2 linked regions of the Homo sapiens genome follow. The protein of the gene in region 1 interacts with the protein of each later gene in a pairwise test. Each region holds a gene or a part of one and is shown on either strand. Other genes may lie near its edges.

What was found. Proteins that work in one complex are often made in the same cells at the same time.
Region 2: the proteins of CCDC74B (region 1) and HENMT1 interact in binary tests that used the Homo sapiens proteins (3 or more experiments, as listed by UniProt).

The regions. Positions count from the first base shown.
Region 1 is NC_000002.12:130,143,237-130,146,985, reverse strand, and holds the start of CCDC74B (coiled-coil domain-containing protein 74B), read left to right. Parts: upstream 1-1,873; 5' UTR 1,874-1,989; coding exon 1,990-2,239; coding exon of another isoform or gene 2,240-2,365; intron 2,366-2,511; exon of another isoform or gene 2,512-2,646; intron 2,647-3,672; coding exon 3,673-3,717; intron 3,718-3,749.
Region 2 is NC_000001.11:108,647,792-108,651,239, reverse strand, and holds the end of HENMT1 (small RNA 2'-O-methyltransferase), read left to right. Parts: intron 1-30; coding exon 31-210; intron 211-851; coding exon 852-1,029; intron 1,030-2,248; coding exon 2,249-2,674; 3' UTR 2,675-2,945; downstream 2,946-3,448. UniProt on the Homo sapiens protein: Methyltransferase that adds a 2'-O-methyl group at the 3'-end of piRNAs, a class of 24 to 30 nucleotide RNAs that are generated by a Dicer-independent mechanism and are primarily derived from transposons and other repeated sequence elements.

The DNA.
Region 1 (3,749 bases):
AGATGGGTTTTCACCATGTTGCCCAGGCTGGTCTTGAACTCCTGACCTCAAGTGATTCACCCACCTCGGCCTCCCAAAGTGTTGGGATTAGCGGTGTAAGCCACTGTGCCTGGCCAACTTCTCACATTTTCTTTTCTTTTCTTCTTCTTTTTTTTTTTTTTGAGATGGAGTCTTACTCTGTTGCCCAGGCTTGAGGGCAGTGGCATGATCTCGGCTCACTGCAACCTCCACCTCCTGGATTCAAGCAATCCTCCCACCTTAGCTTCCCAAGTAGCTGGAATTACAGGTGCATGCCACCACACTAGCTAATTTTTGTATTTTTTAGTAGAGATGGGGTATCACCATGTTGGCCAGGCTGGTCTTGAGCTCCTGACCTCAAATGATCTGCCCAACTCAGCCTCCCAAAGTGCTGGGATTACAGACATGAGCCACCCTGCCTGGCCTTCACATTTTCTTTAGATTATTTCTTAGAACGTCTACCTCTCTGTTCCCATTATCAGTCTGTAATCTCATGTTGTCCACTTTTTCCATTAGAGCCCTTAGCATATTAATCATAGTCGTATTCCATTTCTTGGTCTGATAATTCCAACATCTCTGCCATATTTAAGTGTGGCTCTGATGCTTGCTGTGTCTTCGAACTGTGTTGTTTTTTATTATGCCTTGCAAGTTTTTGTTGAGGGCTGGTCATGCTCAACCAGTAAATGGACTTTCTGTGTGAAGTTTTATGTTGGTCTGGTTAGGGGTTGTGCCATGTGTGCTGTTTGTTAACTGGAGGTGTCAGAGGCTTAAACCTCCTCTAGTGTCTTAGTTTTTGTCTCCCTGTTGTCTTTACGGTTTCCTAGAGATTTCTCGAATAAGCTCTGAGATGAGCAGTTCTTTCACTTGTATCCCCTGTTATTATACAGGAGCCCCGCTGATGTGGCAGTAAGATGTGGGGAAGGAGAGCCAGAGCAGGCTGGGGTTAGCTATGTTCCCTTCCTCCAGGTTTGTTGGTGTCTGGCAAAATTATGATTGGCCTGGCTGTGATTTTTTTTTTTTTTGAGGGCAGGCCTTGTAAAAAAAAAAAAGACTTTTTATTTTTATTATTTTTAAATTTATTTATTTATTTATTATTTTTTTTTTTTTTGAGACAGAATCCCACCCTGTCGCCCAGGCTGGAGTGCAATGGCGCGATCTTGGCTCACTGCAACCTCCACCTCCTGGGTTCAAGTGATTCTCCTGCCTCAGCCTCCGGAGTAGCTGGGATTACAGGTGTGAACCACTGCGCCCGGCCTCTTATTTTTAGGCAGCATCTCACTCTGTCACTTAGGCTGGAGTTCAGTGGTGCCATCATAGCTCACTGCAGCCTCGACCTCCGGGGTTCCAGCAATCCTCCCACCTCAGCCTCCCGAGCAGTTGGGACTACAGGCGCAAGCCACCATGCCCGGGTTTTTTTTCTTTTAATTTTTATAGAGACAGGGGCTCACTTTCCATCCAGGCTGGAAAGGATGCCTTTTATTATTATTATTATTATTATTATTATTATTATTATTATTTTAGATAGAGTCTCTGTCGCCCAGGTTGGAGTGCAGCGGTGCGATCTCGGCTCACTGCAACCTCTGCCTCCCGGTTCAAGCTATTCTCCTGCCTTAGCCTCCGGAGTAGCTGGGATTACTGGCTCCCGCCACTACGCCCGGCTAAATTTTGTATTTTTAGTAGAGTCGGGGTTTCGCCATGTTGGTCAGGCTGGTCAGGAACTCCTGACCTCAAGTGATCCGTCCGCCTCGGCCTCCCAAAGTTCGGGGATTACAGGCGTGAGCCCCGGCGCCCAGCCCTGGATGCCTTGTAAATCACTACTCACCCAGGAAGAGCCAGCGACAGGCCCCGCCCCCGCCAAACGCCTGGCGCCCTCCGTCGCCCGGTTTCCATGGTGACGGGGCGCCAGGCTAGGGCGGCCTGGCCACTGAGCCGGGGTGCAGTGGCAGCGGGAGAGTACCTGGCGATGGCGATATGAGCGGTGCGGGGGTGGCGGCTGGGACGCGGCCCCCCAGCTCGCCGACCCCGGGCTCTCGGCGCCGGCGCCAGCGCCCCTCTGTGGGCGTCCAGTCCTTGAGGCCGCAGAGCCCGCAGCTCAGGCAGAGCGACCCGCAGAAACGGAACCTGGACCTGGAGAAGAGCCTACAGTTCCTGCAGCAGCAGCACTCGGAGATGCTGGCCAAGCTCCATGAGGAGATCGAGCATCTGAAGCGGGAAAACAAGGGTGAGCCGGCGCGGGGCCCTAGGCCGGCCCTGCCTCCCCAGGCACACTCAACACTGCCGCTCCCGCAGCACAGAAACACAGCCATCAACTCCAGCACACGCCTGGGCTCAGGGGGAACACAGGACGGTAAGCCCGCCCTGCCACGCTGAGCTGTCCCCTCCTCCCAGAGGGAGACCCGCGTGGCCCCCGGGCAGTGCCGAACCTGTCTGCCTGTCTCCTAGGGCAGCAGCATTTCAGATGCTGACTCCGCCAGTCCTCTCCTCTCCAAGCAGGGTCAGACACACCTCTGTTAAAAACTTTATAGAGGGGCCCGGGCGCGGCGGCTCACGCCTGTAATTCCAGCACTTTGGGAGACCGAGACGGGCGGATCGCGAGGTCAGGAGATCGAGACCATCCTGGCTAACACGGTGAAACCCCGTCTCTACTAAAAATACAAAAAGTTAGCTGGGTGTGGTGGTGGGCGTCTGTAGTCCCAGCTACTCGGGAGGCTGAGGCAGGAGAATGGCGTGAACCCGGGAGGCGGAGCTTGCAGTGAGCCGAGATCTTGCCACTGCACTCCAGCCTCGGTGACAGAGCGAGACTCCGTCTCAAAAAAAACAAAAACAAACAAACAAAAACTTTATGCAGGGAAACGTGCCCAAGTGCGAGTGCGCAGCTCAGTGAATTTCTTCCAGCTAAACACATCGGATCAGGAGCAGGCATTCCCCCGCCCCCCACCCCGTCCCCGCTTCGCCTGTGCCCATGCTGTCCTCCGGCGGGGCCTTCCCAACTGCACCCTTAGCTGCTCCTCACCCCCACGCCCCCCTTTCTCCCTCCCTCCTCCCCCACCCCTCCTGCCCCGAGCAGGAGGAGGGCCCGCCAGGATGTGGGATGTGGCTCCGCTCCTCGCTCTTGCTTCAGGAGGGCTCCAGCAAGGGCACCAGTGCCCGCGGCCTCCTCTCCCGCCCCGTTCCCTGCTGCTGCCTTACCTGAGTGCCGAGTATCCCATCACCAGGCGTCTGTTTTGTCAGGACCCCGCTTCCCCATGTCTTCTTGAGCCTCAGGACGCCCCGTTCCTCATATCTTCTTGAGCCTCCCCCCAGTCCCTGATGCCCACGGGATCATGACACCGCCATAGCCAGGGATTCCAGAGTTCACCTCTGTACCCCTAAAGCCCAGGTTCTGCCTGGCAGTGTGGACGCCCTCCAGTCATCTCAGATGGATGAGGCTGATATGCCAGGTGGGCTCTGCCTAGGGAACAGGCAGGGGCCACTCCTGGCCTGACACCCACGACAAAGGCATGGTGGAGAGCGGGATCCATGGGGCAGGGCCCAATCAGCCAGTGGGGGGGCAGGACTTTCGGGCTCAGCAGCCAGGAGAGGACAGGCCAGGCTTCTTCTCTCAGAATGGCTGTGGTTTCACAAGTGCTGAGGAGAGCGTGTGCTTGCTTTCAGATCTCCGTTACAAGCTCATAATGAATCAGACATCACAGAAGAAAGGTGAGAACTGGGCCCTTCAGTTCCTGATGGGA
Region 2 (3,448 bases), on another chromosome or scaffold:
TTATTATGTCTTTCTCATTAACCATTTTAGAATAGAACATTTGGATTCAGGTGATCTGGCCAGATTTCCTGAAGTGGTATTTGGGTACCTGTCTCCATCCATGATTGTCATCAGCACACCAAACTCTGAATTCAATCCCCTGTTTCCATCAGTGACCTTAAGAGATTCAGATCATAAATTTGAGTGGACCAGAATGGAGTTTCAGACCTGGTAAGTTCAGAAGGGTTTTTGTTTATTTGGGATCCTGTTGGAGTTTAAAATCTTAGGAAATAAATATTGATATACATACATTACCTAAATTGTTTTGTACTTTCTTCCAATAAAATTGATTCCAATGTGTGACTTAGTATGTAATAAGATCACAAAGGAACCATTGCATTTGGGCAAGTGTGGAAAGGGGGTGTGGTTACTGGGCACCTTTTATGTGAAGGCATCTGTAGTACTGGCATGGAGATGAGGAACAAAACAGAGGGAAGGTTTGGGACAGTGAGAATGAGCCTCATGCCCCTCCCCGGGATATCTCCTGAGGCTTAGTCATGTTTTCTGGTGTAATTGCAAACCCAAATGGGTAGTTGGGTTGAGCACTTGTTGCCTCCTTGTCCACCCCTACACCCTGCCCATAATTTTCCTTTCGTCTTCCATATTCTTAGGGTAAATTGGAAACTGACACTATATCCTTGCCTTGACTTCTCTTAGAAATAAATACACTGGTGGTTAGGAATTTGTAACTTAGAAGTATTTATGTTCATTGTATTTTTCATGTTCTCTTTTACTGCTGACCAGAAATGGTTCCTTATTTAACAGTAGCTCTACATTTAGAAAAATGATTGCTGTCCTCGTTTTGGTTTCAGGGCTTTATATGTGGCAAATCGCTATGATTACTCTGTGGAGTTTACTGGTGTCGGGGAACCACCAGCTGGAGCTGAGAATGTTGGATACTGTACCCAGATAGGAATCTTCCGGAAAAATGGAGGAAAGGCAACAGAATCATGTCTTTCAGAGCAGCATGATCAGCATGTTTATAAAGCTGTGAGTATTCTTTGTGAGATAGCTATCAGGGCTAGAGATACATTAGGATGGTGAACTTTTTTGGGGAGTAAGAATCCCCAAAGTAGAGATGAGTGTAAATGACCTTGCTTTGTGGTTCACTCTAGGAGAATTCTTCAGGCCCCATGACTACTGTCCGAGTTAGCCTACGGTGTCCTTTGAGACTGCCTGGCCTTTTGGTGTTTCAAGGCATGTTAAAGGGAATGATCTGCTGGGGTTGTCTTAGAATACTTCAAAGTAGCTGGGTACAGTGGCTCACACCTGTGATCCTAGCATGTTGGGAGGCCAAGGTAGAAAGATTGCTTGAACCCAGGAGTTCGAGTGCAGCCTGGACAACATAGTGAGATCTCCCATCTCTACAAAAAAACACCCAGAATACTTGAAAGCAATAGTTGAGCAACCTCTTTTTGTAATCTGTTAGGATTATCAGTAGTAAAAAGGAAAGCCAGCAGCAGTTTCTCCCCAGCTTGGCTTAGGACATTACTCTTTGAGCCTACAAACTTCTCAGACCCTTTTGGTTTAAAGAGAGAAGAAGAAGAAACACTTCCTCCCCCTCTTTAAAAATTTTATTTAATTAGGGACAGGGTCTTGTTCTGTCACCGAGGCTGGAGTGCACCGGCACAATCATGGCTCACTGTAACCTTGAATTCCTGGGCACAAACGATCCTCCCACTTGAGCCTCCTAAGTAGCTAGGACGACAGGCGTGCACCACCATGCTCAGCTTTTTTTTGTTTTGTTTTTTGTTTTTTTTTCCGTAGAGACAGGGTCTCACTATGTTGCCCAGGCTGGTCTTGAACTTCCATCCTCAAGCAATCCTCCTGCCCCATCTTCCTAAAATGCTGAGATTACAGGTGTGAGTCACTGCACTTACCCACGTTTTCCCTTTTAACTGAACCATTTTTCATTTTTTTTTGCCCTTGCCCCTGTAATATCAAGTAGAAATACTGGGTTCATGTGACTTGGTAGAAACCTGGCTGGGAGACATTGGGCATTAGCATTAGAAAGCAAATCGGATAGTTAATTTCTATGTGTCAGTGATTTGATTCCCATTATAACTGAGGCATTTACGATTAGTAGGATCTGACATATATTCAATATGTACATTTATTCTTACATGGCAAAAAAGTTATTGATGGCTTTGAAAATTTATGTATGTTTATATTATTATACACTTGTAAGTGTTTTGTTTTTTCCCTTCAGGTTTTTACCACCTCATACCCAAGCTTACAGCAGGAAAGGTTCTTTAAACTTGTGTTGGTTAATGAGGTGTCCCAACAAGTGGAAAGCTTAAGAGTGAGCCACCTGCCAAGGCGGAAAGAACAGGCTGGGGAACGGGGTGATAAGCCCAAAGACATTGGTGGCTCAAAGGCCCCTGTCCCATGCTTTGGACCAGTCTTCACAGAGGTTGAGAAGGCCAAGATAGAGAACTCTCCCACACCCTTCTGTGTTGGAGATAAATTTTTCGTACCTCTGCAGAGACTCCTTGCGTATCCCAAGTTGAACCGCTTATGTGCTAATGAAGAGATGATGAGATCAGTCATTGCTGACTCAATTCCTCTGAGCAGTGATGGTTCTGCAGTGGTGGCTGACCTGCGTAATTATTTTGATGAACAGTTTGAGTTTTGAACCATGTTTATTTCCTGAAATTTCAGGGTCTCAGCGATAGTTGTGCTCACTTAGAATTTAGTTTTTTTTGTGTAATCCTAATTCAAGTAATGTTTTTAAAGTTTCACTGCAAAAGTCTATGTTCCAAGCCATTGGACAGACCTGCTTGAGATATGGCCAGACTGCAGTGAGCCCTGAGAAAGATATGAGGGTTTAAAACGGGTGCTTTCCTTTGATTTTGGACTTTTTTGTTTTCTCAAGAATAAAGAAGTTGGATGTGGTAATATGTTAATTTTGAACTTACCTATTTTTTTTGTGTTAAAGCCATGAGTTGATTGTTGTTAGTCTGTTCTCACATTGCTGTGAAGAACTACCTGAGACTGGGTAATTTATAAAGAAAAGAGGTTTAATTGACTTACAGTTCTGCAGGCTGCACAGGAAGCATGCAGGAAGCTGGGGAGGCCTCAGGAAACTTACAGTCTTGGTGGAAGGCGAAGGGGAAGCAGGCACGTCTTATATAGCTAGAGCCGGAGGAAGAGAGCTTGGGGAGGTCTACACACTTTTAAACAACCAGGTTTAATAACAAGAATAGCAAGGGGGAAATCCGCCCTCATAACCCAATCACCTCCCACCAGCCCCCTCCTCCAATATTGGGGATTACAATTTGACATGAGATTTGGGCAAGGACAGAAATACAAACCATATCAATTGTGATATTAAAAATTTAAGAGAAAGTTATCAAATATAGTGTTCAAAACCTTTTCTTTGGGGTAAGAGTAGCTTTAAAATTTTTCT